Linked DNA regions of Homo sapiens: regions 2, 3, 4, 5 and 6 are each reported to be linked to region 1. The links are microRNA targets in miRTarBase. Many come from high-throughput screens and were not tested one by one. Region 1 holds a microRNA gene; each other region holds the end of a gene's coding sequence.
What was found. Region 1 holds the annotated microRNA hsa-miR-4638-5p (ACUCGGCUGCGGUGGACAAGU, at 3,508-3,528, shown strand). A microRNA usually pairs through its seed, bases 2 to 8, with sites in the 3' UTR of a target mRNA and lowers its output. Matches are read on the target gene's strand: a 7mer-m8 pairs with bases 2 to 8, a 7mer-A1 pairs with bases 2 to 7 and ends in A, and an 8mer does both.

Region 1 (5,000 bases):
GAGTGAGACTCCGTCTCAAAAAATTAAAAAAAAAAAAGGCCACTCTGTAAAAGAAATTGTTACTTGTGATGAGGTAATGTAGGTATGTCTAGCTGTACCACTCAGAGCTGAGAAACCCTAGACACATTACTCTAAAATTGGGGTAACGAAAATAATACCTAAATGAAGTTATAGCAGGAATCAGGAGAAGGTCTGAAAACATGAGTTATAAAACAAAAAAAGCTCTGTGCAGACCACACAGAGGCTACCCCCTCCTCCTCCTGGTCCCACTGCTTCAAACCCATCCAGGCCTTCACTAAGTAGTGCTATTTGTGCTGGCTGCCTTGCAAACAAATCTCCTTTACCTATGTCCAAAGAAGAGTCAAAATGAGAAGTAGGGGCAAGGTATTTGTCAAACTAGAATCAGACTCCAAGAAAGTCACATCAGAAAAGTCAAACAACAGACATCCAAATGGTGGTGGCGTTGTTAGTATACACCAGGGGAAGGGACAGTAAATAACTAAGTCAATTATTACTGAAGCTCTGTGGCCCTCTGTATGGTACTTAAAGCCTCTCTGACTTTGTTTCCCAATCTATAAAATGGGAATGGAAAACATATCAAACTCAGTGTTGTCTGGGTTTTAACGAGACAGTCCATGAAAAGTGCCTAGTACAGTGCCTGGTATACATATAAATGTCCAGTGAATATTAACTATCAATCCTGGACAAATTAAAGTCCAAAGACACTCACAGACTTAATCAAGATTTGACAATGCAACTTGCAGAGCCAGGTCTTCTGACTGAAAAGCTCCTGCTTTCTAGTCAGTGCATAAGAATGACACAGAGCCAACCAAAGTCCTTGAAGACAGAACCAAGCCATATCGTGGTAGGTGGGGAACCCACTGGGAGGCAAGTGCAGAGCATTTGGGTCTGACACTGACACTAGCAGTTATCTCTGTGTTCCTGCTTCTGAGCCTTTTCTTGTCCTTTGAAGCCCCCAGTTCTTTCCATCTCTAGGTGTCTCCGTCAAGGACAGACTTAAGACTCACCCGAAAGAAAACGAGACTTCTGGTAAAGCCCTAGAGACCTGATCTGGCATCACCGGCTTTGCTCTATTTGCTTTGAGGAAGCCATCCTTCCCTGGTCGTCTTCACTGCATCTGCTCTGTGTACAGAATCCTTCTCATTCTAATCCACCTTGGTGGCAGTAAGTGCTTAGATAAGCAAACTTGGCTCACCAATACCATGAGGTTCTTTGGTGGGTGAAGAGATGTTTCCTTTTCCCAGGTCCCCTTACTTCCTCTCCATCCCCCCACTAAACTCCCATCTTCTCTCTGTACTTCTCTCACCTTGTACTCCTGCACCACCTCCTCCAATGGCACCACGCTGTGCTGTTTGTGGCTCCTGGATTCTCGGCACACCACACAGATGGCCTCTTCGTCTACCTCGCAGAAGAGCTTCAGGGCTTCTTGGTGTTTGGGACAGATGCCCTGATCGGTCACGCGGCTCCCTCGACCAGGGGTTGGGTGCATCTGCCGAATCACCTGGACCATATTGGCCAGCTGCAGGTTGGGGCGGAAGCTCCGCCGAGGAAAGCTCTTTCGGCACTGAGGGCATGTGAAGCACCTCCGAGGGGCTGGAGGCGGGGGCAGTGGGGTGACGGGGTCTAGATCCTCTTCCTCAACCTCCTCCAGCACTTCCTCCTCGTCCTCCTCATCCTCCCCCCTCAGGTCCTCCTCCTCCATGTCCCCCAAGTAGTAGTCCAGGTCTTCCTCCTCGTCCTCCTCCTCCCACACATAGTCCATGTTGTCCCAGCTGGACCTGCTCATGCCACTGGTCCAGAACACACCCTCTTCTTCCTCCTCGACCTCCTCCTCCATGTCACCCTCGTAGTCTTCATCCCGCATGGGGGTGTCCCACCCCGCGCCAGCCCCCACAGCCTCCACTTCCTCCTCCTCTCCGTCCTCCTCCTCCTCCTCCCGATCTAACTCATCTCTGTCCTCCTCATCCTCCCCACCCCACAACTGGGTTACACAAACTCGGCAGAAGTTGTGCCCGCAGCCGATGGACACGGGGTCCGTGAAGTAATCGAGGCAGATGGCGCACACCGCCTCCTCCTGAAGGGTCTGCACAGGGTTGGGTGTCATGGCAACGGCAGCCATCTTAGTGTCCAGCCAGCCAGTGTAGAGGTTCGGTGGGGGGGCGAGGGGCGGGGGTCTTCCCTACCGACGCCCTGGCGACCCGGCTCCACCCCCAGCCCTGCCCCTCCACACCTCGCCCCAAGAGCAGCCAGAGAGATGTCCTGCCGACAACCCACCCCAACACAGTGTTCCCTACTCCCAAACGACAACCGTGTCTCTACGAGGGGAGGGGACAGTGCTGGGCGCCACCGCCAAGTCCCTCAGGTGGCTCTGAGTACAAGTCTGCCCCAATGCTCCCTTGGACTCCTCATAAACCCCCGCCCCTCCTCACTTCCTGGCCCCGCCCCTAGCTTCCGGCCTCCTTCCCAACACTTCCGGCGTCTACACACCACCTAAGCTCGCGACTTCCCTCCGCTGTCCTGCTACTCCCCCTTTTTCCCCGCGGGGCCCCAGGGCGACAGGAAATGGCGAGGAGACGCTCTAGTCCGCACTAGAGAACAGGGCGGGAGGGCTAGGACGGTGGAGGCCCGCGTCTCTGTGGTAAGAGGCCGCGGGGAACGCAGAAAGAACAGAGGAACCGCCTACCCCCATCCCCCGCCGCTGGGGAGAAACTTCGGGGGGTAGGGGGAGCGCCTGGCGGCCGTCTGCTTTCGGTGCTATCACCGCATCGGCCAGACGCCATCCTACCCTCCCGGCACAGCCGACTGCAGCCGGTACTCCCCACAGCCGATGCCGGAAGCGAGGGGGTGGGTCCGCGGCGCGCCCTGAAGTACTTCCGGCCCTTCTAGGCAGACGACTTCGTTGTGGAGGACTCAGAGGGTCGTCCGGGTCGGACCGGGGGCGGGGCCTGAGAAAGCGCTTCGCGGGTTAGGGCAGCAGACGCCCCACCCTTCCCCAACTGTAGTCGGCGTTTCGCATCCGAGGTAGAAACTGCCAACCGGACACTGTCTCATGGTTTAGATGAACTTCCCTAACTGCCCAGCAGTGAAGAAGTGGTGACGAATCATTACATCTACATTCTCACAGCATCTCTGCAAAAATAGATGCTTTGTGCGGTAGAAATAATACTTGATGCTTAAATAGCTCTTTAAATTTTATTTTTATAGAGATTTGATGTCGATACATAAATAAATAAATGTTGTTTGATGCGAGAAAAATGACGGGGCCATGATTTATGTACAGAATCTCCAGTGAGTGCCAGACACAGCGTGACGCCAGGGCTGGGCCTGCAGAACTTACCCTGCTCTCAAGGCGGCTCGCGGGAAAACTCCAGATGGACGTCGCGCTTCCTAGGGGGGTGGTCAGGCCTCTGAGTATGTCAGATCAAACGCGCCAAAAACCACGAACCCTCGTGGGTGAACTATGCTAGGCCATTACAGGACCTGCGGACTCGGCTGCGGTGGACAAGTCCGGCTCCAGAACCTGGACACCGCTCAGCCGGCCGCGGCAGGGGTCCCCGGGCCTGTCCTACAAGGGCGCTTGCCTAGAGCTATCCCGGCCGTCTCAGCCGTGTGTGTCTTCAGGACGATGCCGGCAGGAAAGTAGCCAAGGTGGTTTCCGTAGTGTAGTGGTTATCACGTTCGCCTCACACGCGAAAGGTCCCCGGTTCGAAACCGGGCGGAAACACGTTTTGGTCTGTTCGGGAGATTCTCTCCCGAGGCCGGCCTTACGTGGCAGGAAGGACATGTGTGTCCCTGCGCTTCGGAGGAACACGGACTGGGGCAAAACTGAAGGAGAGCACTACTCAAGTAAATTCAGGTCTCGCCCCTCACCTAATCTCTTGCTCTTCCCTTCTGAAGCCTATGCAGCCATCACATGTACAGGAATCCGTAGATTTCAGATCCTCGGCTCTAGTGCCTAGAACAGAGCCAGGCGCAGGCGCTTCTTAGTATTTGCACAGTGGAAACGTGCTTACACCTCTGAGGGTAACCTCCATCTTCAGAGACAAAGTTAGAATACAGACATGGCCGCCCGGCTAGCTCAGTCGGTAGAGCATGAGACTCTTAATCTCAGGGTCGTGGGTTCGAGCCCCACGTTGGGCGTAATTTCGCTTTTTGGAAAGGTTAAGGCAAGTTGTGTTACCTAAGTGCACAAATGGTATTCTCTGTACCAAGACCTAGTGGGTAGCAGATTCACCAACAGTGGGTGTTAGAACTTGGACTAACCTGGTGTTCTCCGATCCGTGTGTGGAAGGCCCCGAGCAGAATTCTCACAACGTTTGCACCCTCGCTAACTCTCAAAGAAAGAATGAGAGGCGGGTACCTGTGGACCAATTCCTGCAGGCCAGCACCGCGGGCTATCGTGCATGCATGACCCTTTGCTGTAGGCCACTCGCCCACGGGCAGCACATATTAGGCATTTTATGTTTACCAGACGGCCTGCCCCCGTCTTGCTGTGAGACTTGCTGTGCTGGAGGGAACAATGTGGTTTATCGAAACTGGGGTGAGACCGCAGGACGACCCCAGGCGTTCGTGAGCGTCAAAACCTATCTGATTCACTCCCACTTTACTGGGAGATTTAGTGGTTAGGCTTCCGCCTTTGTCTCGCTACGACCTGCTTTCGACTCCCTGTCAAGAAAGATGCTTTGTGTCATATGAGACACTTGTCTTCCGTATATTCTTTTTTATGCTCTTGACTTTAAGAGTCTATTTTTGTGAGATGTTGCCCCACAAATACCAGCCTCCACGTTTCCCCCATACATAAATAGAGATAAAAACGGGCCATGCGCCGCGGTGGCTTATGCCTGTAATCCCAATACTTTGGGTAAGCCAAGGCGGGAGGATCGCTTGAGCCCAGGATGGCCTCGAAATTAGTCCTGCAAATATAGGCCTTTTTTCTTTTTTTCTTCTCTTTCTTTCTTTCTTTTTTTTTTTTTTTTTTT
Region 2 (5,086 bases), not on the chromosome of region 1:
GCCGAGGCAGGTGGATCGCCTGAGGTCAAGAGTTCGAGACCAGTCTGGCCAACATGGTGAAACCTTGTTTCTACTAAAAATACAAAAATTAGCTGGGTATGGTGGTGGGTGCCTGTAGTCTCAGCTACTCAGGAGGCTGAGGCAGGAGAATCACTTGAACCCGGGAGGCGGAGGTTGCAGTGAGCTGAGATTGCACCATTGGACTCCAGCCTGGGTGACAGAACGAGACTCTGTCTCAAAAAAAAAAAAAAAAAAAGAAAGAAAAAGAAAAAAAAAGATGGAAATAACAGACACAGGGAACCCCAAAGGCTGGGAGGGTGGTAAGGGTTGAGGAACTGCCTACTGGATGCAGTGTCCACTATTTGGGTAACGGGTGCATTGGAAGCCCACTCCTCACCAGTGTGCAATATGCCCATCTCACAAACAAGCACGTGTCTCCTTGAATGTAAACTTTTTTTGAAAAAAGATTTTAAAAGGTTATTTCTTTAGATTTTTAGGTTGAACTGTATGTAGACAGAGAGTTAAATAAATTATGGGTCAGCCATGTAATGAAATACTCTATACAAAAGAATGAGGTAGATCACCCTACATATTAATATGTATAGACCTGGGAAAATATCTCTAATATATTGTTAGTTACAAAAATCAAGTTCAGGAACAGCATATATAGTGTGATCCCATTTGTATTATTAAAACAGATGTGTCTATCATTGTCTATAGAACAGAAAAATATCTAAAAAACATAACCTTACAGTGTTATGAGTTATCTATAGAAATGGTTTTGTGAGGAGCCATGAAACATGTCCCTTCGATAAAGCAATTCTTTTTCTTTTTTTTTTTCCTTTCTTTTTATTTTTTTTGAGACGGAGTCTCACTCTGTCGCCCAGGCTGGAGTGCGGTGGCGCAATCTCGGCTCACTGCAAGCTCTGCCTCCCAGGTTCACGCCATTCTCCTGCCTCAGTCTCCAGAGTAGCTGGGACTACAGGTGCCTGTCACCACACTCAGCTAATTTTTTGTATTTTTAGTAGAGACAGGGTTTCATTGTGTAATCCCAGCACTCTGGGAGGCCGAGGGGGGCAGATCACGAGGTCAGGAGATCGAGACCATCCTGGCTAACACGAGTAATTCTTTTTCAATGAAACTTTGTGTTCAAGGATAACAAGCACAGAGAAAGAGACATGAGTCGTGAGCAGCCCAGGAGTGATCAAAGTGCGCCCGTGGGAAAAGCCACCACCAGGTGAGGGAACAAGACCAAACAGGATCCCCCATCACGTCCCTCCCAGCCATGTTCCCCCCTCTCTCCAAAGCCACCATTATCCTAACTGCTGAGCACAAACTTGGAAACAAATAAACAAACTTGGGCCTTAGGTCTGGGGTGTCAGAGGCTGAGGGGATCTGGAGCAGGGGAAGGGGAGAAATGGCAGCCCAGGAACCCCCAGCTCAGTCCCGCTGTAAAAGCCATGCCCTCGGGGCCCCATCTGTGAGGAAATGCTTCTCGCACTGGCTCATGAACACCCCCAGCTGTGCGTGCCTGGGACAGAGACCCATGGGAAATGGCCATTTCCTAGGACTAGTGAGTAGTATATCACACACACGGAAAAATTATGGAGTAGAGTATGAAAGCTGAATAAAACTTGGAAACAGGAAACTTCGAAGACATGAAGGATTAGAGCAGGCACGCTGGGAATCAGCCCTGAAGAGGCAGGCCTGCGTTAAGGGCTGAATCGGTAGGAAAACTGGGGCAATGAGGGACGGGTCAGGCCTAGGAGGAGTACCCATATAGCTGTCGTCAGCGGACACTCCTTCTGTGTCCCTCAGACTCAGGGCAGTCCCTCCGCCTGCCCTTCAGCAACTCTCCAGAACAAAAGCCGAGGTCACCTCCCCTGCTCTTGAAAACCCTCAATGGTCAAGAAGCTTTGTCAAATCCTCATGAGCCTTGCACAGTGCCAGGTGCTGTACCTAATGTAAGTGCCTCATTTTACTCTAATAAAAACTAAGTATTAGGCTGATCTACAGGAGGAAATGAGATTCACAGAGATTAAGGCAACAGTCAAAAGACACAGAACTAGTAGGCAACAGACCTGGAATTCGACCCTGTGTCAGGGTGGTTCCAAATGCAAGCTCTTTCTACTAAACTGCCAGCCTCCCAGGTGCCCAGAAGTGATCCTGGCCCTCCTCCTCTACCCTGATGTCCTGACCTCCTGGTGTGCTGACAGTGCTGGGTGAACAGAGAGCACCGCTGCCTGTGGAATCTGGCCCTGCGGAATACCGGCTCCCCACAGAACCAGGAGGCCCTTCAAGAAGGAAGGAAAAGAGGGGCCTGGGAAAGCCAGGAGTAGACGTGACAGACCCTGACGTCAGGAAACAGGCCAAGGGCATAAACACCCAACCCCTGGGGACATTCCAGCCAGCAAAATGTCCCTCTCTAAATTTTTAAAACCCCCCATCCCTGAGGGAGGCAGCGTAGAAACAGAGAAGAGAAGGCAACAGGAAGCTGCAGCCACTTCCTTTGAGAAGAGGTGGACAGTGAGCAAGAGTTTAGGGGGAAAGAAGCTGAAAAAGGACAGTACCGGTCCAGGGGTTGGAACAGCTGGAGGACTCCCTGGTACCACAGCACAAATGGGGCTGGGTGCCCCAGGAACAAGAACATACACACATACCCCACCTTCCACACACCTTTTTTCTGTAAACAGACCTCATTTCTCGGACCACAGAAGTGGACACATGGCTGAGCTGTTCCCTGCCTTGGGAACAAGCCAATCTGCACAGAAGCAGAAGCAGCACAGAGAGCAGAGGCAGGGGGACGGGAAACACATAGGGAAAAGACAGCAGGGGAGGCCTGAAGAGAGAAGGAACAATGGTGAGACAGGAGGAGGAAGGGAGGGAGTAGGGGAAGGAGAGAGAGAGAAAGAGGGAAACAGAGATAGAGTGCGCATGTGCTAGCTGACTGACCGTGGAGCCATGGATCTAGGTGTTCCTGAGGCCAGTTCCATGTCCCAAGCATGGTGATGTAAATTAATGCATTCTGCCTCTCGGCTTATGCTATTCGAAATTAGGCTGTATCATTCACAGTCCAAAGAGTTACTATTTCAGTTGTATATAAAGAACCTTAAAAATCTATAAAGGCACCTCCAAAATCACATCAAAGCTGGAAAAACTAAGGAAACCAAAGTTGGTTCTCTTCTTTCTTTTTTTGAGACGCAGGTCTTGCTCTGTCGTCCAGGCTGGCCTCGACTTCTCAGGCTCAAGCAACCCACCTCAGCCTCAGTAGCTGGGACTACAAGTGCACACCACCGTTTGACTAATGAAAAAAAAATTTTCTTGGAGTCTTTCTCAAAGAAGCTATTCAAATGAAAGTATATTTATTTTTATAAATGTTTCCTCCAGTAAGTTTATGTTTGACTGTACTTAAGAAACAGGAAAAAAAAAAAACCTGTAATTAAACTTGTGCCAAGATTAACCAACAGCCTCTACTGCTTGTTTCCCATTATTACAGGTTGGGTATCCCTTATCTGAAATGCTTGGGACCAGAAGTCTTTTAGACTTTGGTTTTTTTGTGTGTTTTGGAATATCTGTATTATATTTACTAGTCAAGTATCCCAAATCTGAAAATCCAAAACCTGAAAAGCTCTAATGAGCATTTTCCTCCAATGTCATGTCAGTGCTTGATATGGTTTTGCTCTGTGTCCCCACACAAATCTCATGTCAAATTGTAATCTTCGGTGTTGGAGGAGGGGCCTGGAGGGAGGTGACTGAAACATGGGGGCAGACTTCCCCCTTGCTATTCTGTGTTAGTGAGTTCTTGGAGATCTGGTGTTTGAAAGTGTGCAGCATCTGCCCCTTTGCCCTCCTCCTCTGGCTCTAGCCACGCAGGACATACCTGCTTCCGCTTCACCTTCTGCCACGATTGTAAGCTTCCCAGGGCCTCCACAGCCATGCTTCCTGTACCACCTGTAGAACTGTGAGTCAATTAAACCTCTTTTCTTTACTTATAAATTACCCAGTTTCAGGTAGTTCTTTATAGCAGTGCAAGAACAGATAAATACAGTGCTCAAACAGTTTTAGATTTTCGGATTTGGGATGCTCTCAACCTGCACCATTAGATTATACTCTCTTGGTATAAATTATTTAAAAACAAATCCCAAACTAATACATAAACAAGCCGAACAAACCTATCAGCATAAACTTATAAACACAAACACAGGCAATACACAGACACCAGGTAAAACAGGGATGGTATTTCTGGATGGTTTAATCATGAATGGCGGTAGGCAGTGTAAGAAAAAAGTTCCTAGAGCATGATAAACCTTGGTTTCTGGCACAGGATAAACCTTTCATTTCATGGTGTACATTTCACAATATTAAAAAAACCCCAGCCTGGTTTTCATGATTAACGCCGTGGGGAAAGGACAATGTTTCCAGGGAGCAACGACTCGCAAGCACACCCCTGGGGCTGTGCGGTGGCCGTCGGCGGGGCCAGCTTCAAAGTCCAACCCACAAGGCACAGGTTTTCAAATCTTTACCTCTGTGTACAAGAACGTACATGAACTTTAAAAACGTGTGTTTCCTCGTCTGTGTTTAACACCCTAACGATGATCAGTTTGGGGGAGACGTACCCCTCCCTAATCACAGGTAGGACCACTTCCCAAATCAATGAAACGACCGTCCTCTTTTGTGTCTTGACTTCAGGTGTCCGGCCGAACGACGGAGTCTTTTCCTTTCTTGTCGATGCAGTTTCTCAGCCTCCTGTTGCTTCTTCTGCTGTTCAGACTAAAAGAGAAAATGAAATGAGTAGAGGGAAAGAGAGAAAATTCTATACCTCTTTTCTGGTAACCGTCAGGCTGCCAACAGTACCACCACCAATCTCAGAACTGCTGCCAGGAGAAATGCTGCCCACAGGCTCCAGGGGACATGGTGGGGCTGCCTGGACTCTGCTCTGACAAATGCTACCCTGGCAGAAACAGCAGGACCAAGGCCAACTTTTACCATCAATGCAAAAGCAGAAATTCTGAACCCCAGGCAAGAGAAGGGCCCTGACAGACCAGCCTCCTACAAAGTAGGAGACTGGTTTTTCAACCAACACACT
Region 3 (5,086 bases), not on the chromosome of region 1:
AAAAGAGCAGATGTTTTAGACTTAATGATCATAAATCTGACCAGGGAGAACGAGATCTGGAAATGTTGACCTGACCAAGTGGCACAGATTCCCTGCCCACCAGGTATGCGCCTGTAGTTTTTAGAAGAGTGGCCTCTAAGATGCAGATGGAGGGAGATGGGTCAGCTGAAACCCCCAAAGACTGCCTTTCGGGCTCTCCCATTATCCTCCATCTCCAAGGCATCAAGACCCCAGGAAGCCAGCAGCTAAAGATCAGTATCCTTGTGTGTTTTTCCCTGCCTGGGCCCTGCTTTATTCTCTGGGCAGGTGACTGAGGGCACCTTTGTAACATGTCTTTAGCCGGTGAGACCCCGACACTTCTTGGTGATGGTATGCATCCTGTTTGGCCCGTGTGCCATTCTCTACCATTGAAGTCATGGAGTTGGCCCAAGTTCTGACCTCCCTGGTATGCTTTCCTCTGAAGAAGTGGGGTCTCTCTCATACGGGTTAGATATGTACAGCAAATGCTTTATTTCCTTGCATTTCTCATGAAGACATCACATTTCATGATGCTACACTCTTGGCCTAATCTGCTGGTCCCCCTTTCCCCCCCAGCCTGCCTTTTCACCTTGTCTCTGGATGGATCAGGACCCTTGACTTCTCTGGCTGTTGGTGACGCCATCTCCTTATTGTGTGCAAGTTTTAACAGAGGAATTCACTTACTCAGAATGGACCACAGCCAAGGGCTGGAACTGCAGGAAGTGGCAGCATTCTGAGGCCAAGAGACACTCACTGGACAATATCAAACCATGGCTCCTCCTCAGCATGGCTTTGTGTCTTTCCCAGTTATCTTGAGGGGAGTGGGATGTAGGGCTGGTATTCTTTGCTTAGGTTCATTTACAAGATGTATCAGTGTTGTAAGTCCAATAATTTAAGTCCAGTGATTCAAAATCAGGTATAGAGTCCAGAAACATGGACTACACATAAGGTTCTCTATTTAAGTTAAATACAAATGCAACTTTTTAGTGAGCTTTTAGGACTACTCTTCAAAAAAAGTGTATTGCTCAGAATGATGACCTGTAAATGTAAGAGTGGCAGGCCTCTGTCTGTGAAAGTCAGAACACAGGGCTCGAGCCTCTGGAACTGACCCTTTGCAAGTCTTTACAAAAGAAAAAAGGCAGTGGGGAGAGAGAGTGTTTTGGTTACATCAGAAATAATTGAGATGGGAAAGAATAGTGCAGCTCCATAGAGGAGACGGACTGTAGACAATGAGATTAAGCTTCAATCACTGCTCCTCAGCAATGTGAAGAATCAAAGTCAGGGCAAGAAAGCGAAAGCTTGGACTTCTATTCAAAGTGGCAGCAGAGTGGGAGGGCGGTACCCTTCTAGCCCAGTGCTGCTGAGCTTGTGTGAAAATCAGACCTGAGATGGCTTGAAGCAGCCAAGAACCACATGGGCATTGCCCAGAATTACAGGAGTTAGCACACCAGCTCTACAGATAAGAAAACATTGAAATTCAAAGATTAAGGCCAAAAATATCTCACTTGCAATTTTAATATTTTCATTTGGATTTATATAAATGAAACATATATATGTTTTGGAATGGCCAGAGTGAGGCAAAGGGGATCCCTGAAATAACATTAGAACATACAGGAAAAACGAGGCAGGCAGATCACTTTAGGTCAGGAGTTCAAGACCAGCCTGTACGTGCGTGCCTGTAGTCCCAGCTACTCGGGAGGCTGAGATGGGAGAATCACTTGAACCTGGGAGGCAGAGTTTGCAGTGAGCTGAGATTGTGCCACTGCACTCCAGTCTGTGTGACAGAATGAGACCTTGTCTTGAAAAAAAAAAAAACAAAAAACCACATACAGGAAAAAAGAGAGGGATGGAGTCAACTGTGCCCCAGACATTAAGCCCCCTTCAGTGAGGAGGGGCAAGGTGCTCAGGCCTGCCTGTGTGGCCCCCAGGAGTCAGACCTCAGCCTCATGCTCACTGGTCCATTTTCCTCCAGGGAAAATGGAGTTCTTTCTGCCTTCAGAGATGCCCACACATAAGGCACATGAGGCTGTTGGTGACACCATCACCAACACTGGAGATTCCCTTTCTGACAAGTCCCAGCCAAAGAAAGATTTTGCATTTGTCTTCTCTGTCCTCTGCTTGTCTCTGATACCAGTGACTGACAGCCACCTTCCTTCTTCCCTCTCTTGGTGTGATCATGGCTAACTGCAGCCTCAATCACCAGGGCTCAATCAATCCTCCCTCCTTAGCCTCCTGAGTAGCTGGGACTGCAGGCATGCACCACCACACCTGGCTAATTTTTTGTGTGTTTGTGTGGTCTAAAACTCCTGGGCTCAAGTGATCCATCTGCCTCGGCCTCCTTAAGTGTTGAGATTACAGGTATGAGCCACCACATCCAGCTGAGAGTCTGTTCTTAAGCTAGTACAAAGAGTCAGACCCGACTTTGAATCTCCACTTCTCCATTTAGCTGGATGATCTTGGGCAAGTTATAAAATCTGTTTCCTCTTCACTTTATAACGTGGGTTTCATGATCATACCTCGCCACAGGGCTGTTCTGAAGACTGGACATAGCTATTTTAAATGCCAGGAAAGGCCAGGCGCAGTGGCTCAAACCTGTAATCCCAGCACTTTGGGAGGCCGAGGCAGGAGGATCACCTGAGGTCAGGAGTTTGAGACCAGCCTGACCAACATGGAGAAACCCCGTCTCTACTAAAAATACAAAAATTAGCCAGGCGTGGTGGTGCATGCCTGTAATCCCAGCTACCTGGGGAGCCTGAGGCGGGAGAATCGCTTGAACCCAGGAGGCGGAGGTTGCGGTGAGCCGAGATTGTGCCATTGCACTCCAGCCTGGGCAACAAGAGCGAAACTCCATCTCAATAAATAAATAAATAAGTAAATGCCAGGAAAGGTGGTGACAAATGGTAGCCATAATTATTTATTGTCCTCTCTGTCCAGACTAAATGTTCCCTTTTCCATATTAAACATTTACCATTCTGCCGGACGCGTTGGCTCATGCCTGTAATCCCAGCACTTTGTGAGGCCTAGGCGGGCAGATCACAAGGTCAAGAGATCGAGACCATCCTGGCCAATATGGTGAAACCCCGTCTCTACTAAAAATACAAAAATTAGCTGGGTGTGGTGGTGCCCGCCTGTAGTCCCAGCTACTCAGGAGGCTGAGGCAGGAGAATCGCTTCAACCGGGGAGGCAGAGGTTGCAGTGAGCTGAGATTGTGCCATTGCACTCCAGCCTAGGCAACAGAGAGAGACTCTATCTCAAAATAAAATAAAATAAAATAAAATAAAATAAACGTTTACCATTCCTTGATCCTTTTTTTTTTTTTTTTTTTTGAGATGGAATCTTGCTCTGTCGCCCAGGCTGGAGTGCAGTGGTGCAATCTCGGCTCGCTGCAAGCTCCGCCTCCCGGGTTGACGCCATTCTCCTGCCTCAGCCTCCCGAATAGCTGGGACTACAGGCGCCCGCCATCACGCCCGGCTAATTTTTTTGTGTTTTTAGTAGAGACGGGATTTCACCGTGTTAGCCAGGATGGTCTCAATCTCCTGACCTCGTGATCCGCCCGCCTAAGTGCTGGGATTACAGGCGTGAGCCACTGCGCCCGGCCTCCTTCATCCATTCTTAGATCTTATCCTCTAAACCTTTAGTCATCGTTTCACTCTCCTTTGATTCCTTGTTATGGGTCTTTCAACTCTGGAAAGACAAAGAGATAGTGGGAGAGGAAGCCCGGTCACTGAGCATCTACAGAGGGCTAAATATATTTATTCTCATTTGTTATTCCCAATATTCTCTGTATTGTGATTTCCATTTCACAGATGAGGAAGCTGAGGGCTAGAAACATGCAGTACTTTGCCCAAAGTCACACACATATTAAGAAGAGCTGAGGTATGAATCTGGGTCTGCCTGACTCAAAGCCCAAACGCTTTCCTTTGCATCGTGTCACAAAGTCATAGACCATGACATTGTTTGTATCTTCAAGACCAGTTATTAACTTTCTGGCTCCAAGGAGATCCCCTGCCCAAGTGCCTAGGGGCAGTAGACAGCTGTCTCAGGGACAGTCGTAGCATGTGCTGGATTATTAGTGCAGCAGCTGACACTTTTTCCCAGAAGGGAGAGAGGCAGCAAGTCAGAAAGTTCACGGGAATGAGTTGGGAGGGGGTCCCAGGGAAGGGGGACAGGCTGCCAGGAGAAGGAAAGTACACGGGAGAAAATAGTGGGGCTCTGATGAGTTAGTAGGGTTCTGTTACCAATAAAATTGTTTCCATAAACTGTACATGTGCTTGATGTCAAATTATCTATGCATTTTAAGTAGAAAATAGATTAGTAAATTCTAGTGTTTGTAGAGGACTTTTTTTAGTCTGATATGCCCTAATCAGATACTCTCAGCACCTAAGATACAGGTTGCTAAAATTCATTCATTCCTTGAACATTCATTGAACACTTCATTTTAGAGGCTGCCCTCTAAAATCATATCAAGGAATTTTCCAAAGACAATTTTTTTCCAGGAAGGTGGATAAGCCCTTGGAACCTGGCCAATTGCATATTTAAAATTTAAATAAATGTATACATTTACTTACATATTTATGATTTAAATATATATACTTGAGGGGAAATGGATACTTATTATTAATGTTCTTCATTTTGGCACAGAAAAGTGTAGAACTCGGGTCACTTGGTGTTTTTATAATCCAACAGTGAGATAAAAACTATTTCCAAATGGCCTTCTGAAAACATAATTATTAAAGAGCAGCTTTATTATTAGTAATGTAGTAGACTGTGGCAGGTGCGGTGGCTCATGCCTGTAATTCCAGCATTTTGGGAGGCCGAAGCGGGCAGATCACTTGAGGCCAGGAGTTTGAGACCAGCCAGACCAACATGGTGAATTCCTATCTCTGCTAAAAGTACAAAAATTAGCCAGATGTGGTGGTACATGCCTGTGATCCCAGCTACTGGGGAAGCTGAGGCAGGAGAATCCCTTGAACCTAGGAGACAGAGGCTGCAGTGAGCCATGATCGCACCACTGCACTCCAGCCTGGGCGACAGAGCAAGACTCCATTAAAAAAAAAATGCAGTAGAC
Region 4 (5,086 bases), not on the chromosome of region 1:
CGTCACATATCTGTACAGTCCACACCGTCACACACACACGCCCACACCCGCATGCCACACATCCATACAGTCCACATTCACGTATGCCCATATGCATCCATTCACACGTGTGTACACATGCTCACACACACACATTCATAGACTCCACACATGCACACGTGCACACACACGCACATGCTCGCACACATGCACAGATACACTCACGTCCACACACGCTCAAACATGCGTGCACACCCGGAGGTGCCCAGAGGGGCAGGGTGGGGAGGACCCCTGCAGCTGCCACACTCCCTGCTCTTGTGGGTAGTTGGGGGCCACTGGGTATGTGTGTCCATGCCCCGTCCCCCCGGCAGTGCCGTGCACTGCAGACCTGCCTGGGGCTCAGCACCTGCAGGGGCCTGAGGGCGGGGGAGGGAATGCGGGGTCCCTGGACCCCTGCGGTCGGGGTGGTGAGGCTGCTCTTGCAGAGAGAAGTGGGGAGTGCCTGGCTGCATCCGGGAGGGATGGAGGGCTGGGGAGTTGGGGGGGTGGGGCACCTCCAGCCCCGGCGTCAGCTGTCCGCCTCGCCCCAGGCTCCTCTCGAAGATCCTGAGCGAGTGTGAGGACGCCGACGAGATCGAGTACCTGGTGGACGGCTCGTGGTGCCCGATCCGCGCCGAAAAGGAGCGCAGCTGCAGCCCGCAGGGCGCCATCCTCGTGCTGGGTGAGTGCCTCACCCCACCAGCCGCGCAGTCCGCAGCCAGGGCCGCCTCAGTTTCCCCATTTATCAGTGGTTGCATCCTAAGTACCTGCACCCTGTCCCTGTTGCCCGTAGGCCCCTCGGACGCCAATGGGCTCCTGCCCGCCCCCAGCGTCAACGGGAGCGGTGCCCTGGGCAGCACGGGTGGCGGCGGCCCGGTGGGCAGCATGGAGAATGGGAAGCCGGGCGCCGATGTGGTGGACCTCACGCTGGACAGCTCATCGTCCTCGGAGGATGAGGAGGAGGAGGAAGAGGAGGAGGAAGACGAGGACGAAGAGGGGCCCCGGCCCAAGCGCCGCTGCCCCTTCCAGAAGGGCCTGGTGCCGGCCTGCTGACCCCGGCCGCACACTCGACTTTCCTGGTGCTCACCACGCAGAGGGGCACGGGCCAGCCTCGGGCGCAGAGGGAGGAGTGACCTTTCTTTTTCTTTTTATTGTCGTTCGTTTTGTTTTTCCACCCTTTTGCCTGGCTCCTGGCACCTGTACCTCTGGACTCTCCTATCGGGGGATTAAAAAAAAAAGTAAAATGACAAAAAAAGATACAAAAAAGAAAAATGAAACAAAAAAGTCAAACTCTTAAAAACAAGGCCGGCCACCCACACAGCCGCCTCCCCGGCTGGAGTCCGAGCCGGGAAGGGGTAGTGGGCGGGAGGGACCAGGACGCCGCCCCGCGCCCTCCCCTCCGGATGCCCCGCCGCCCGCCGCCCTCTGCCCACGACCATTCCAGCCAGTGCGCGGGGACCCGGGCGGCGGGCGGTGGGGCGCAGCCCCTCTCTGGCGACCACTTTGACGTTTGTCTCTTCCTTTGCTTTTTCTCTGCAAATGCATCCTCGCCCAGAGACCCTCACGCGCCGAGCAGCGAGCGTTTTAGCCGAGAAGCCATGGAGTGGGTTGGGGCGGGGAGGGGCAGTAGGGTGGGGGGATGGGTGGGCAGGATGGGGGTACAGTGGGCGGCTGGGGAGGGTTTAGCCACAGATGTGTTGTATTTTTTGAAAGTGCAATAATTTGGTATTTTGAAGACCCGGCGTGTGGTCAGGAACCCCCGGGGAAGGCGGGGGCCCAGGGTGCGGCACCGTGTGGCGTGGGGGGGTCTCAGTTTTCTAGCCAGCTACCTCGGTAATTCCAATTCAGGTTAACTTCCCTACGGAACAGCACAGATGTCCACAGATGTCCACAGCTGCCGCCGCCGCCGCCGCCACCATACCCCGGTCCTTGGGGCATGGGTTGCGGTCGCTTCCCAAGGGGCAGCAGGGACCCCGGCCACCCCGGCTCTCGGTTTGGGTTGATTCCTCTCCTTTTTGCTCTTGGTTTTCCGACGGGTACGAGGCTGGCCCGGCACCCTGTCCCCCGGGAGCCTCACTCTTCCAGCAGGACCAGACCAGGGGCCTCCTTCCTGTCCCCAGGCGTTCCCGGCCCCTCGCAGGCCCCACCCATGCCCTTGGCCTCAGGGTCCAACAACTGGGGGAGCTACCAGGGCTCTGCCTTCAGGAGCCCACAGCTGGGCACCCCCCTTGCCCCGCAGGAGACCGGGGCGCAGGCGGGGCACCGGCCTCACCTGGTTCTCCAACACCGCTGCCTGCGGTCTGTTTTGCTTTTGTCCTCCCCAGCCCAGAATTTTCCTTTGTATAAACAGAACTCCTAGTCAGGAAGCAATATCATTTCAGGTCTAAAGAAAGGGACGTGCATCTGGCCGAGGGCAGTTCAGTCTCACTGCAGAGCCCGCAGCCCGCTGCGCAGCTCGGCCCCTCCCGCCCGCACGGGCAGCTGAAGGCCGCTGTTTTCTAATATTTGTATTCTAATTTAATTGTTTTTAAAAAATGCAAATAAAAAAGGTCGAGGTGAAGCCATCCAGGCGTCCGCTTTTCTGTGCCCTGTGTCTCTTAAGTGTGTACCCTGTAGTCGGGGGGCGGAGTTGGGGGAAGGACAGAAACTCAGCCTCACCCACATCTCTCTTTCTTGGTTATTGCCTCAGCTTCAGAATTCAAAAGGTGCTGCTCGTGGTCAAATGAGGCAGATTTTTATTTATTTACTTATTTTTAATAGAGACAGGGAGTCTTGCTGTGTTGCCCAAGCTGGTCTTGAACTCTGGGCCTCAAGTGATCCTCCTGCCTCAGCCTCCCAAAGTGCTAGGATTACAGGCATGAGCCACCATGCCCGACCTGAATGAGGCCAGTTTTACTGTGTACTGTACTGCCTGGGCCTGGTGTCCACCACGCTGGGAGAATGGGAGAAGGGACTTGGGCTGTACATGGAATTCAGGTCCCAGGATCGTCCATGTCTCTGGGTGGCCAAGACGATACACAAATGTTTTGCTTTTGTAAGGTGAAAAAAAAGGGCCGGGTGCAGTGGCTCACGCTTGTAATCCCAGCACTTTGGGAGGCCGAGGCGGGTGGATCACCTGAGGTCAGGAGATCGAGACCATCCTGGCTAACACAGTGAAACCCCATCTCTACTAAAAATACAAAAAGCTGGGCGTGGTGGCGGGCGCCTGTAGTCCCAGCTACTCGGGAGGCTGAGGCAGGAGAATTGCTTGAACCCAGGAGGCGGAGGTTGCAGTGAGCTGAGATCACGCCACTGCACTCCAGCCTGGGCGACAGAGCGAGACTCCGTCTCAAAAAAATATATATACAGACAACCAATGAGCACATGAAGAGATGTTAGGGATGTGAGTCAAATGCACGGTGAGATACCTGTCACCCCCACCAGGACAGCTAGCATCAAAAACAGCAGCGAGGGTCAGGGAAGCTGCAGTCCACATGGCTGGGGAAGATAACGTGGTGCAGCCCCTTGGAAACAGTTGAGGCTAAATGTGGAGTTAGCGTGGGACCTGCAATGCCAGCCCTAGACGTGTCCCCAAGGTAAGTGAACACGTCCGTCCACACAAATGTGCTCACGGACGTGCACAGCAGCCAAATGTGGCAATGACCCATGTCCAGCCGGGGAGTGAATCAGTGCAGTGTGGCCATCCACACTGCAGAATGACAGCCATGGAAAGGAGCGAGGCTCTAACACAGGCCCCCAGCCCAGACGAACTCTGAGGATGCCATGCTTAGTGAGAGACATCAGACACCAAAGGCCACGAGGCGTGTGATCCCATTTCTGTGAAATGTCCAGAACAGGCCAATCCACAGAGACAGGAAGGGGATTCACGGGTGCTGGAGAGTGGAGAAGGGGATTGAGAGTGATCACAAATGGATATGGGGCATCCTTTGGGCTGGATAGAATGTTCTGGAATTAGTGGTGACAGGTGCATAATTTTTTTAAGGGAATTTTTTGTTTGTTTGTTTGAGACAGTCTCGCTCTGTCGCCCAGGCTGGAGTGCAGTGGCGTGATCTCAGCTCACTGCAAGCTCTGCCTCCCGGGTTCACGCCATTCTCCTGCCTCAGCCTCCCAAGTAGCTGGGACTACAGGCGCCCGCCACCACGCCCGGCTAATTTTTTGTGTTTTTAGGAGAGACGGGGGTTTCACCGTGTTAGCCAGGATGGTCTCAATCTCCTGACCTCCTGATCTGCCCACCTCGGCCTCCCAAAGTGTTGGGATTACAGGCATGAGCCACCGTGCCCAGCCTTTTTTTTTTTTTTTTTCTTTTGACATGGAGTCTTGCCCTGTTGCCCAGGCTGGAGTGCAGTGGCACCATCTCGGCTTACTGCAACCTTCACCTCCCCCCAGGTTTAAGTGATTCTCCTGCTACAGCTTCCTGAGTAGCTGGGACTATAGGCGTGCACCACCACGCCCAGCTAATTTTTGTATTTTTACTAGTCACCATGTTGGCCAGGATGGTCTCAATCTCTTGACCTCGTGATCCACCTGCCTTGGCCTCCCAAAATGCTGGGAGCATTACAGGCATGAGCTGCCGCACCTGGCTTTGAAGAGCAATTATATGGTGTGTGAATTACATTTATTTTCATTTCTGAGAAAGGGTCTCACTCTGTCACCCAGGCTGGAGTGCAGTGGTGCAATCATAGCTCACGGCAGCCTCGACCTCCTGGGCTCAAGCAATACTTCCACCTCAGCCTCCAGAGTAGCTGGGACCACAGGTGTGCACCATCACACTCGGCTAATTTTTGTATTTCTTGCATAGACGTGGCTTCACCTTGTTTTTCTGGCTGGTCTTGAACTCCTGGGCTTAAGTGATCCTCCCTTCTTGGCCTCCCAAAGTGCTGGGATTTCAGGCATGAGCCACCGCGCCTGGCCTTGAAGGGAAATTGTATGGTATGTGAATTATATTTTTGTATTTTTATTTTTGAGACAGGGTCTCACTCTATCGCCCAGGCTGGAGTGCAGTGGTGTAATCATAGCTCACTGCAGCCTCGACCTCCTGGGCTCAAGCAATCCTTCTGCCTCAGCCTCC
Region 5 (5,086 bases), not on the chromosome of region 1:
CACATATTGTAGGAGTCTATTTATATGAAATGCCCCAAATAGGCAAATCTATGAGACAGAAAGTAGATTAGTGGTTGCCTAGGCTTGAGTGGGTTGGAGTGGAATGAAAACCCCTGAATTGTACACTTTAAATGAGTGAATTGTATGGTATTGTGAATTATATCTCAAGCTGTTATACAGCTTTTTTTTTTTTTGAGATGGAGTTTCACTCTTGTTGCCCAGGTTGGAGTGCAATGGTGTGATCTGGGCTCACTGCAACCTCTGCCTCCCCGGTTCAAGCAGTTCTCCTGTCTCAGCCTCTCAAGTAGCTGGGATTACATGCATGTGCCACCACGTCTGGCTAATTTTTTGTATTTTTAGTAGAGACGCGGTTTCACCATGTTGGTCAGGTCGAACTCCTGATCTCAGGTGATCTGCCTGCCTTGGCTTCCCAAAGTGCTGGGATTACAGGCATGAGCCACCGTGCCCGGCCTTGTTATACATTTTTTTTAAGGTGTTACAATTTTGTTAAAAATCAAAAACATGGCTGAGTGCAGCAGCTCATGCCTGTTATCCCAGCACTTTGGGAGGCTAAGGCGGGAGGATGCTTGAGACCCTGTCTCTACAAAAAATAAAAAAATTAGCCAGGCATGGTGGTACGCATCTGTAGTCCCAGCTATTCGGGAGGCTGAGGCTGGAGGATCATTTGAGCCCCAGGAGTTGGAGGTTGCAGTGAGCTGAGATTGCGCCATTGCACCCCAGCCTGGGTGACAGAGTGAGACTCCATCTCAAATAATAAAATAAAATAAAATAAAATAAGATAAAATAAAATAAAAAGATAAAATAAATAACCAAAACCACAAAAACCTAAGCCTTTGGTCTATGTGTGATGTGGCAGCACTGGTCCACGCAGCAGAAGTTGGACTTCCTTAATGGGTCTATTTTCTTTGGGCAATAATAGAATTGCATTGCGTGTGTGTGTGTGTGTATCATCCTCAAGCCTACCACCTGAAAACTGATACACTACTAGAACATTCTACCAAATTATGCCATAACATGACATGGACCTTGCTTTAAAACTGTCATCGGTCACTTAAACTTGCCTCACAAGCCATTTCTAAAGTGGACGTAAATCTATAACTTAGGGAACAGATGAGTGATCAAAATGTTCTGTCTAATAAGCAGGATATATTACAAAATGATTATTTTGTATCTGGGATTACAGGCGCGAGCCACAGCACCCAGCCCAGACTGCTTGCTTCTTTTTTTTTTTTTTTTCTGAGACAGGGTCTCACTCTGTCACCCAGGCTGGAGTGCAGTGGCATAATCTTGGCTCACTGCAACCTCTGAGCTCAAGGGATTCTCCCACCTCAGCCACCTGAGTAGTTAGGACCACAGGCATGCACCACCACGCTTGGCTAATGTTTTGTATTTTTGGTATAGACGGGGGTCTCACCATGTTGCCCAGGCTGGTCTCGAACTCCTGAGCTCAGGCAATCTGCCACCTCAGCCTCCCAAAGTGCTGGGATTACAGATGTGAGCCACCATGCCCAGCCCAGACTGCCTGATCCTTAACCTGGTTCCACCATTCTGGACAAGATGACTAACCCCTCTGGACCTATTTGTAATATAAGGATAAATGACAGTAGCCAACTCACAGAGATGTTGGGAGAACTAAGCGAGTTAATTGTATAAATAAAGTACATAGAACAGAATCTGGCATAAAGTTAGCACTCAATAAACTTTATCTGTTATGTTTTCTTATCAACCTCATAAACTTCAGGGAGTGGGGGCAGTATTTACTTTCTGGCAGACCTTTCTTGTAAGGATCTTGGACTTGGTCCTTGGGAGCAAATAGATTATCAAGGATGGGGCTATGCCTAAGCAGTAGGGTTCAGTTCAGACAGATCAAAACCATTTCTGGCCAAGCGCAGTGGCTCACACTGTAATCCCAGCACTTTGGGAGGCTGAGGCAGGAGGATCACTTGAACCCAGGAGTTCAAGACCAGCCTGGGCAGCATAGTGAGACCCCCATCTCTATTAAAAAAAAAAAAAAGACTATTTTCTTTCTCCCTGGTTGGGACCATTTGATTCTGTGAGGGGCCTGGTTCCCACAACGCCCTCTGAGAGCCCAAATCCAGTAGGAGAATGCAATCTTCCCTGAATATACAGACTCCGGAGTTCAGGTGTGAAATAGCGGAGCTTACCCTCAGGAAATCCATTGATACGGTGATGATTTGAGGCCTTTGGAGGTCGAACCCTGCACCCAGGATGAAATAAATCTCTTAGCAGAGAAACCTGCAATAGCTCCCTTGAGCATTCCTTGGTGCTGTGACTGGCTCTGTTTAGACTTTCTTGAACTATAACCCAAAACCTTGCTGACACTGAGTTACTGGATTCCAGAGCTGGCCTAGTCTTGTTGTGTTACTGCAACTTGTGTGCCCTGATTGCTTAATTTGATAGTGACCCTGCCCATCTACTCTCAAGTTGCAATTTGATGCCATAGAGCAACTCATGCTGACTTGTGGTCTGGTAGCCAATGTTCATTCTTGGCCAACTCTGAATCTTTCTGGTTCTATGCTGATTTTGGGCCTCCGTTTATGTGCTCAACTCTGCCTGTGCCCCTGTGGATGCATTTAAGTCTCCCTATCCCTAATGGGACTCTCGGTCAACTCAAGAGAGAGCACTTTTCTTCTCCAAAGGGAAAATGCAGGCACAGAGAAACCAAATTATTTGTTTAGGGAAACAGAGCTAGAAATTTAGTTGGGCCAGAATTAGAAACTTCAGATCACATTGCATCTAAAATATAGTAATTAACAAGACTTTATTCTTAAATAAAATGTTGCTTTAATAAAATACTGCACATATATATTTTTCTTTTCAAAGATGTTATGAGCAGGATGGTTGTTTTGAATGATAATGTATGGTATACTATATAATTAGTAGCAAAAACAAGGACTTTCAAATAAATAGGCTTCAGCTTTTTTTGGGGGGTAGGTGGGTGGGGCAGAAATACTCTGCATATCAGATGAGATTGAAAAACAGGCAAGGAGGGCCCGGTGCGGTGGCTCATGCCTGTAATCCTAGCACCTTGGGAGGCCAAGGCAGGTGGATCACTTGAGGTCAGGAGTTCGAGACCAGCCTGGCCAACATGATGAAATCCCATCTCTTCTAAAATTCTAAAAATATAAAAATTAGCCTGGCATGGTGGTGCACGCCGGTAGTCCTAGCTACTGAGGAGGCTGAGACATGAGAATCGCTTGAACCAGGAGGAAGAGGTTGCAGTGAGCCAAGATCGTGCCACTCCACTCCAGCCTGGGTGATAGGTGCGCCGTCTCAAAAAAAGAAAAAAAAAGAAAAGCAGGCAAGGAGGAGTTGGCTAGCTGGACATAGTGGCTTGCACCTGTAGTCCCAGCTACGCGGGACGCTGTGGTAGGGTGGGAGGACTGCTTGAGCCCAGGAATTCAAGAGCAGCCTGGGCAACATAGTGAGACCCTGTCTCAAAAAAAAAAAAAAAGAGAGAAGATGTTGACTTTTCCTTTAAGAATGTGCTCTTGGTTGGCTTGGGATAGAGAAAGGAGTCATATTTACCCTCTAGGAATTAAAAGTAACACTGGAGTGACCTGAGAGAGGAATCCTGGCCCTCCCCTTGTCATTTTGCCCAAGATTTCAGAGCCTAATTGAAACATACAAAAGCACCACCAGAGTCGCCCTCTAGCCTTCTGAAGATCCAGTGGGGTGGATGTGGAGCCAGTGGAAGAATCTGGAAAAAGCAGAGCTGGGCTTATAAGGAGGATGATGTAATGTGATAGAGGAGATGTCAGCTATACCTGAATGTTTTGACCTAGTGCAATATCTGGGTCACTGCAGCCATTCAGAAATCCAAGGAAATACGATGAACATGTATGCACAGTAAAAAAAATACTAGAAGCAGAATTACCCCACTAACCATCTATTAATTATACTTAAGCTGGTCCCCCATTACTGAGAGTGCATTACTATATAATTAAAGCCATTTAGACATGGCTTGGCATAGCACTTGCATGATACGCCACATACTAAAAACTCCTCCTTAGGCAGCCTTCTTTTCCTATCAGATTCAGAGCTCCTTTCTCCTTTTCTCGGTAAGAATGAACACAGGTAGAAAATTCTCAGTTAGGATCTCCAGCCTGGGCTTGTGAGCTGGCCCTACCTGGAAGTCTTGCTTTTGTATATGTGACGGAAGAATAAGTAAGTCTTCAGGGGAAAATCCAGAACAACCCAACTTCTAGCAACAGGTCTTTCTCAATAGCTTCATTAGCTTTTCAAAAACATTACCCAATATGATTAGGATTGTAAAAGAGGACCACCTGAGCTGACAGCACCTCTGGCCTCAAAATGGGCTGGCAGAAGACCATTCAAAGATAAAATGGGCTGTTCCAGTGGGAGTGAGCTCCCTACTTGTGAGAGTATTCAAGTAGAGAGAGGAGGACCTCCTGGCGGGAAACTTGCATATGGTGTACGTGATATGGCACCTCCATCTGAAAGAGTCTGTGCTGAGGGCAGGCTGGAGTCACACATGGGAATAAGCCAGGCGACCCTCCAATCTGCCATCCGTGATTTAATTCCACGACGGCAGAATGGATGGCATGTCACTTGCTCCAAATACCAGTGCCCATTGCTTCAAATAGTAGTCCTCCTCAATCCCTGGCATGGTTGTTGACTTTAAACACCGAAGACTCCACATCTCTTACAACGACTTCTTGTGCGGCTGGCCCAGGACCTGGGCGAGGCAGTAGGGGATGACACTGACGGATGCCAGGGGCACTACCGCACTCTTGCAGAAGGACAAGACGTAGAAGACCAGCTCGACTTGGGATGGGGGTTTCAAGGAGTCAAAGACGTGCAGGAGGACGAGGGAGGCTACAATAGAGCTGAGGCGGAATGGGAGCCACTTGCTGAGTTTCCCCTTGCAGCTCTCCCTGTACATGCTGGAGTTGAGAGCCAGCCCCAGGCCAAAGAGCGTGCCCAGGTTCTTGAGGAGGCTGGCAAAGGGTGTGGTGTCAATGTGGACCCATTCTGGCTGCTCGCACCACCTCTGGGCTTTCTCCAGAGTCCACAGGAGGTC
Region 6 (5,086 bases), not on the chromosome of region 1:
CACCAGGTACAAGGAACATGAAGATGGCTATATGCGGCTGCAGCTGGTTCGCTACGAGAGTGTAGAGCTGACACAGCAACTGCTGCGGCAACCACAAGAGGGATCGGGCCTGGGAACGTCGCTGAACGAGAGCAGCCTGCAGGGCATTATTCTAGAAACAGTGCCAGGGGAGCCAGGACGTAAGGAAGAGGAAGAGGAGGGCAAGGGTAGCGAAGGGACAGCCCTCTCAGCCTCTCAGGACAACCCCAGTTCTGTCATCCACGTGGTGAATCAGACCAATGCCCAAGGCCAGCAAGAGATCGTCTACTATGTGCTGTCTGAAGCCCCAGGGGAGCCTCCCCCAGCCCCTGAGCCACCTTCAGGGGGCATCATGGAAAAGCTTCAAGGAATAGCTGAGGAGCCAGAGATCCAGATGGTTTGAAGGCCGCAGAGCCAGACCATTTCTTCCCCAGGTCCTGAAGTTTGAGCCAGGCAAGTGGCAGTGCCCCTAGTGGGCAGCCGTTGCCAATGGATGCCTTTAGGAGTGGTGCCGAGAGCAGTGTGGTCCACTCTGGCCTGGGTTTGCATCATTCTGCAGACTCTAAAGACTTCCCTTTTCTGCCAGACTACATTTTGTGGGGAGCCTGAGGACTCTGGATTCTTTGAGGGGATCCTGGATGTGTGTGTTCTTGTTAAAGAGGCTGTTATCAGGCTTAACCATAACCCTCAAGATCTGCTTGACAGTGATTAAATCCTTAGCTCACATCCATTCCCATCTTTCGGGCTCCTTAGGCCCAAGGATGGCATGTGACTGGTCCCTGCAAGGGTCCTTTCTTTGTCACCAGCCAAGGCATTGATAACCAAGTAGCCATTTTCCTCTTAAGGTTTCCTCTACAACCCCAAGGACTTTCATGATTATCCTCAGGGACAGGATTGGAGGCATTGAGCGTGTTTATTAACAAATTGTTTTTGGTAATAAAATAAATGCTTGGACTCTTATTTATTTCTTCTTACATTTGGTGGCAGTTTACTAGGTAATGAGGAGATACAGCCACCCAGAAGAGGAGCTGAATAGTTAGGCTTGTTCCCCTTCTGGTGACTCAGGTGGTTTGTTTTTTGTTTGCTTAACTGTCCTGTTGTCTTCTCCTCCTCCCCTTGGTGAAACTTCGCTATTCTCAGAGCGTATGCCATTTCCATGGAGGTCCCAGGTGTTTGGCTGTGAGTGGGCAGTAGTGGTGCTATAGAATGAACAAGAATGGGCTCACTGGGAGGATAGGGCAGCTGACCATGGCCTCACTCTGAATACTGATTAGAACCCAGTGCCTCTAGGGTAGGGGTTCTTTACCTGGGAGTGGGAAGGAAGCTGGGGGGTGGAGAGGATTGGGAAGCCTCCCAGGGAAGGGAGGCAATCAAGTGGTCCAGGAACCAAACTAGAAAATTGTGTGTCTGAATGTGCATTTTCCTGGGGAAAGGATCTGTTTTTTGCTAGATTATCAAAGAGATTGAAACCTCCCAAAATAAGAATCATCATTTCGTCTGGTTCAGCTGCTTCTCAGCACCCTGTGTCCATTTTTATGGTCTACTGCTATGCTGGAGAGGTCAAGGAAATAGTCTTGGGGACAGGAAGCTGCCCAAAAAGGATCTCTGGGCCTTTTTTTGTAAGACCTAATTCTATTACTAGAAAAACTAAGGCTGAATGCAGTGGTTCACGCCTGTAATCCCAACACTTTGGGAGGCTGAGGCGGGCGGATCACAAGGTCAAGAGATGGAGACCATCCTGGCCAACATGGTGAAACCCCGTCTCTACTAAAAATATAAAAATCAGCTGGGCATGGTGGCACACATCTGTAGTCCCAGCTACTCGGGAGGCTGAGGCAGGAGAATTGCTTGAACCCGGGAGGCTGAGGTTGCAGTGAGCCGAGATCATGCCACTGCACTCCAGCCTGGCGACACAGTGAGACTCCGTCTCAAATAAATAAATAAATAAAGAAAGAAAAGAAAAACTGTGTGTGTCTATTTGTGGAAAGAAAAAGATCTCTTCATTAATCCCATCAGCCATTTATTGAGTTCCTACTATAGTCCAGGCACAGGTGCTAAGGATACAAAGATGAATAAAACCCAGGACCTTCCCTGGAGGGACTTGCAATGCAGAAGCAAGGAAAGACTAGGTAAGCTGAGTGATAGAAGTTAATCAGGGTACATTTAGAAGGCTCCAAATAGGAGTAATGGTACTACCTGGGCAAGGGATCAGGAAAGGTTTCATCCAGGAAGAGACCTTCCACCTAACCAAGACTAGATGAAGACTTTAAAGGTTCTAAACTCTGAAAAGATTGTGGTGTCCCATTTTTCATATGTAATCAGAATGAAAATATTAAGCCATGAAACATTTAAAGTTCAACATGATTATACTTAAAACATATATTGTATATAGATTAACTATCAAATTCTGTTTCTAATTTTTTCTTTTATTTTTCAGTTCCCCAGTTTTGCTGGTGTCTAAGCACTGGCGTGGGGTGTCCCTTGAGTAATGCAGCACTAATGACTCTATCCATTCTTCCATGAGCAGTGTCTTCGGGAGCAGGCCAGCATTCTATGAAAAGGACCTTCCCTACTAGTCTTCTCAGTCATGCCCACACCAAATCGCATTGCTCTATCTGGACCATGGAGACAGCAGAAGAGATTCTGGTCTGTTACCATGTGATTCCATTCCCTAGGAGGAGGGGTGACTTGGGATCCTGGACTCAGTATGCATGGCTTAGAAAGTACTGGACCAGGAGTGAGGGGTCACTGTTGAGTAGTCTAGGCAGCCAGAGGCCTCTGGAAGGATACTAAAGGCTGTGGTGGGTGACAGTGGGCTCCTGGAGGGAGGAGGGTGATGATACTAATTTGGTTACCTTAGAATTTCACCTAGAGTCAACCCTGGTCCCAGCATCATGGTGTCTGAAGATTAAGGAGACACCCTGTCTTAGTCTTCCTTAAAGGGGGTAGGGATAGGAGAGAAGGCAGGTGGCCCAGGAGTTGGAAGCAGATAACTTCTTTTCTCTTATTTGTGGCAAGTCCACAACCACAGAGGACTTAGAAGAACTGGGTGGATATAAAAAAGTGTCAACTATGGCCGGGTATGGTGGCTCACGCCTGTAATCCTAGCACTTTGGGAGGCCGAGGTGGGCGGATCACTTGAGGTCAGGAGTTCCAGACCAGTCTGGCCAACATGGGGAAACCCTGTCTCTACTAAAAATACAAAAATTAGTTGGGCATGGTGGCACATGCTTGTAGTCTCAGCTACTCAGGAGGCTGAGGCAGGAGAATTGCTTGAATCTGGGAGGCAGAGGTTGGAGTGAGCTGAGATCACGTCACTGTACTCCAGCCTGGGCGACAGACCAAGACTGTCTCAAAAAAAAAAAAAAAAAAAGTGTCAACTAAAAAGGAAAATTGAAAAAGAGGCCAGGTGCAGTGGCTCATGCCTATAATCCCAGCACTTTGGGAGGCCGAGGTGGGTGGATGGCTTGAGCCCAGGAATTCGCGACTAGCCTGAGCAACATGACAAAACCCCAATTCTACAAAAAATACAAAAATTTAGCCCAGGCGTGGTGGTGCATGCCTGTAGTCCCAGCTACTTGGGAGGCTGAGGTGAGAGAATTGCCTGAGCCTGGGGAAGTTGAGGCTGCAGTGAGCTGTGATTGTGCCACTGCACTCCAGCCTGGATGACAGAACAGTGTCTCAAAAAAAAAAAAAAAAAAAAAAGAAAAATGATTTCTCCAAGATGAGAAGGGAGAGGAATGATGAATGGTCATGGGGAATAAATAATTACTGTCAGATTATGACCTAGTGAATTTGGACACTCAATGCATGTTAAATGAATAAATGAAGTTTGCTCAAGATCAGGAATCAAATGAGGAACATATCCATTTCATGTACAGTAGCAGAGAGACTTAAGGCTGAGAGGGAAGGGTGGAGGAGATGGTGAAAGCTTCTTCATACCATGCTAAATAGCTTGGATTTCTTGGCTGGGGAGGGAATGTGGAGGACAAGAAAGTAGATGAAACTTGGAAAGGAATGGGGATGTCCCCACCCTCGTGGAACTTAAGGCTAATTTCCTGAGGGGAAGAGACTAGAGGCCAAGGGGAAGAAGCCAGTGAGAGAAGATTTCAAAAATACAAGAGAAGCCTGGTGCGGTGGCTCATGCCTGTAATCCCAGCACTTTGGGAGGCAGAGGCAGAGGCAGAGGCAGGGGCAGAGGTGAGAGGATTGCTTGAGCCCGCGAGTTCGAGACCAGCCAGGGCAGCATGGCAGAACCCAAACTACAAAAAACTACAAAAAGCAGGGCATGGTGGCACGTGCCTATAATCCCAGCTACTCGGGAAGCTGAGATGGGAGGATGGCTTGAACCTGGGAGGTCCAGGCTACAGTGAATTGTGATCGTGCCACTGCATTTTAGCCTGGGCAACAGAGCCAGACTCTGTCTAAAAAAACAAACAGCAACAACAACAACAACAACAACAAAAAAGAAAAATACAGGAGCGAGGATATTTGATAGGGTAAAGCCCCTAGATTTGGGGTGGGAAGAATATAGAGAACAAGTAGATAAATAAAACTTGGAAAGGAATGAAGTAGAGAGAAGAAGGTAGGAATGGGAGTGGATATGGATTTTGTTCATAGGCATAAGGGGGATTTCATGCTTGGTGGTCTCTATTTCATTGATAAAGTAGGAATTAAAGTTATTGAAGATAATCTGTTGGATTAAGGATTTATACAAATTGACACATTTTAGAAATGCCATTAACAGATATAAGAATGAGATAGAAGACCTGACGACCCAGCTGAAATTGAAGACCAAGATCAGGCAGGGGCAACTTCAATACAACCATAGAATTTTTTTTTTTTTTCAGCAGACAGGAGCACCCCTGGAACACAAACAGAAAACAGACCACTGGGTGTATCACAGCAATGGTGTGGTGGCCAGGACATGGGTTGCACAGGGCCAAGGAGCAAGGCAATTAGAGCAGCTAGAGATGGATCATGAAGTCCAGACTGGACGGTGAGGGCCTAGGAAGCTGGAGGTAGTACAGCAGTTACAGTCACACCACTGGAGGTTCCAGTGAGGCTT

Region 2: the mRNA of NOL10 is a reported target of hsa-miR-4638-5p. The part of its 3' UTR that is shown has no 7-base or 8-base seed match.
Region 3: the mRNA of WDR31 is a reported target of hsa-miR-4638-5p. Seed matches in the 3' UTR shown: 8mer at 2,817-2,824.
Region 4: miRTarBase lists PIAS4 as a target of hsa-miR-4638-5p. Seed matches in the 3' UTR shown: 8mer at 1,605-1,612.
Region 5: the mRNA of G6PC1 is a reported target of hsa-miR-4638-5p. The part of its 3' UTR that is shown has no 7-base or 8-base seed match.
Region 6: the mRNA of HINFP is a reported target of hsa-miR-4638-5p. Seed matches in the 3' UTR shown: 7mer-A1 at 529-535 and 8mer at 1,895-1,902.

The regions. Positions count from the first base shown.
Region 1 is chr5:181,221,140-181,226,139 of GRCh38, reverse strand. MIR4638 (microRNA 4638) reads left to right here and starts at 3,507; the gene lies at 3,507-3,574. It overlaps TRIM41 (tripartite motif containing 41), which reads right to left and starts at 2,859. Exons shown (of 6, transcript NM_033549.5): 1 at 1,328-2,859. The coding sequence starts at 2,140. TRK-CTT2-3 (tRNA-Lys (anticodon CTT) 2-3) reads left to right here and starts at 4,089; the gene lies at 4,089-4,161. TRV-CAC1-5 (tRNA-Val (anticodon CAC) 1-5) reads left to right here and starts at 3,673; the gene lies at 3,673-3,745. RefSeq lists enhancers at 966-1,963, 2,631-2,860 and silencers at 2,111-2,320, 3,591-3,820, 4,071-4,280.
Region 2 is chr2:10,567,421-10,572,506 of GRCh38, forward strand. NOL10 (nucleolar protein 10) reads right to left here. Exons shown (of 21, transcript NM_024894.4): 21 at 3,334-4,770. The coding sequence ends at 4,651. Among named protein-coding and RNA genes, the nearest start is that of NOL10, 120 kb to the right of the region's middle.
Region 3 is chr9:113,312,418-113,317,503 of GRCh38, reverse strand. It overlaps WDR31 (WD repeat domain 31), which reads left to right. Exons shown (of 11, transcript NM_001012361.4): 11 at 595-4,282. The coding sequence ends at 755. Among named protein-coding and RNA genes, the nearest start is that of RNF183, 12 kb to the right of the region's middle.
Region 4 is chr19:4,036,805-4,041,890 of GRCh38, forward strand. It overlaps PIAS4 (protein inhibitor of activated STAT 4), which reads left to right. Exons shown (of 11, transcript NM_015897.4): 10 at 570-700; 11 at 812-2,582. The coding sequence ends at 1,071. Among named protein-coding and RNA genes, the nearest start is that of ZBTB7A, 28 kb to the right of the region's middle.
Region 5 is chr17:42,911,049-42,916,134 of GRCh38, reverse strand. G6PC1 (glucose-6-phosphatase catalytic subunit 1) reads right to left here. Exons shown (of 5, transcript NM_000151.4): 5 at 1,697-5,086. The coding sequence ends at 4,709. Among named protein-coding and RNA genes, the nearest start is that of G6PC1, 13 kb to the right of the region's middle.
Region 6 is chr11:119,134,078-119,139,163 of GRCh38, forward strand. It overlaps HINFP (histone H4 transcription factor), which reads left to right. Exons shown (of 10, transcript NM_198971.3): 10 at 7-1,982. The coding sequence ends at 421. Among named protein-coding and RNA genes, the nearest start is that of ABCG4, 12 kb to the right of the region's middle.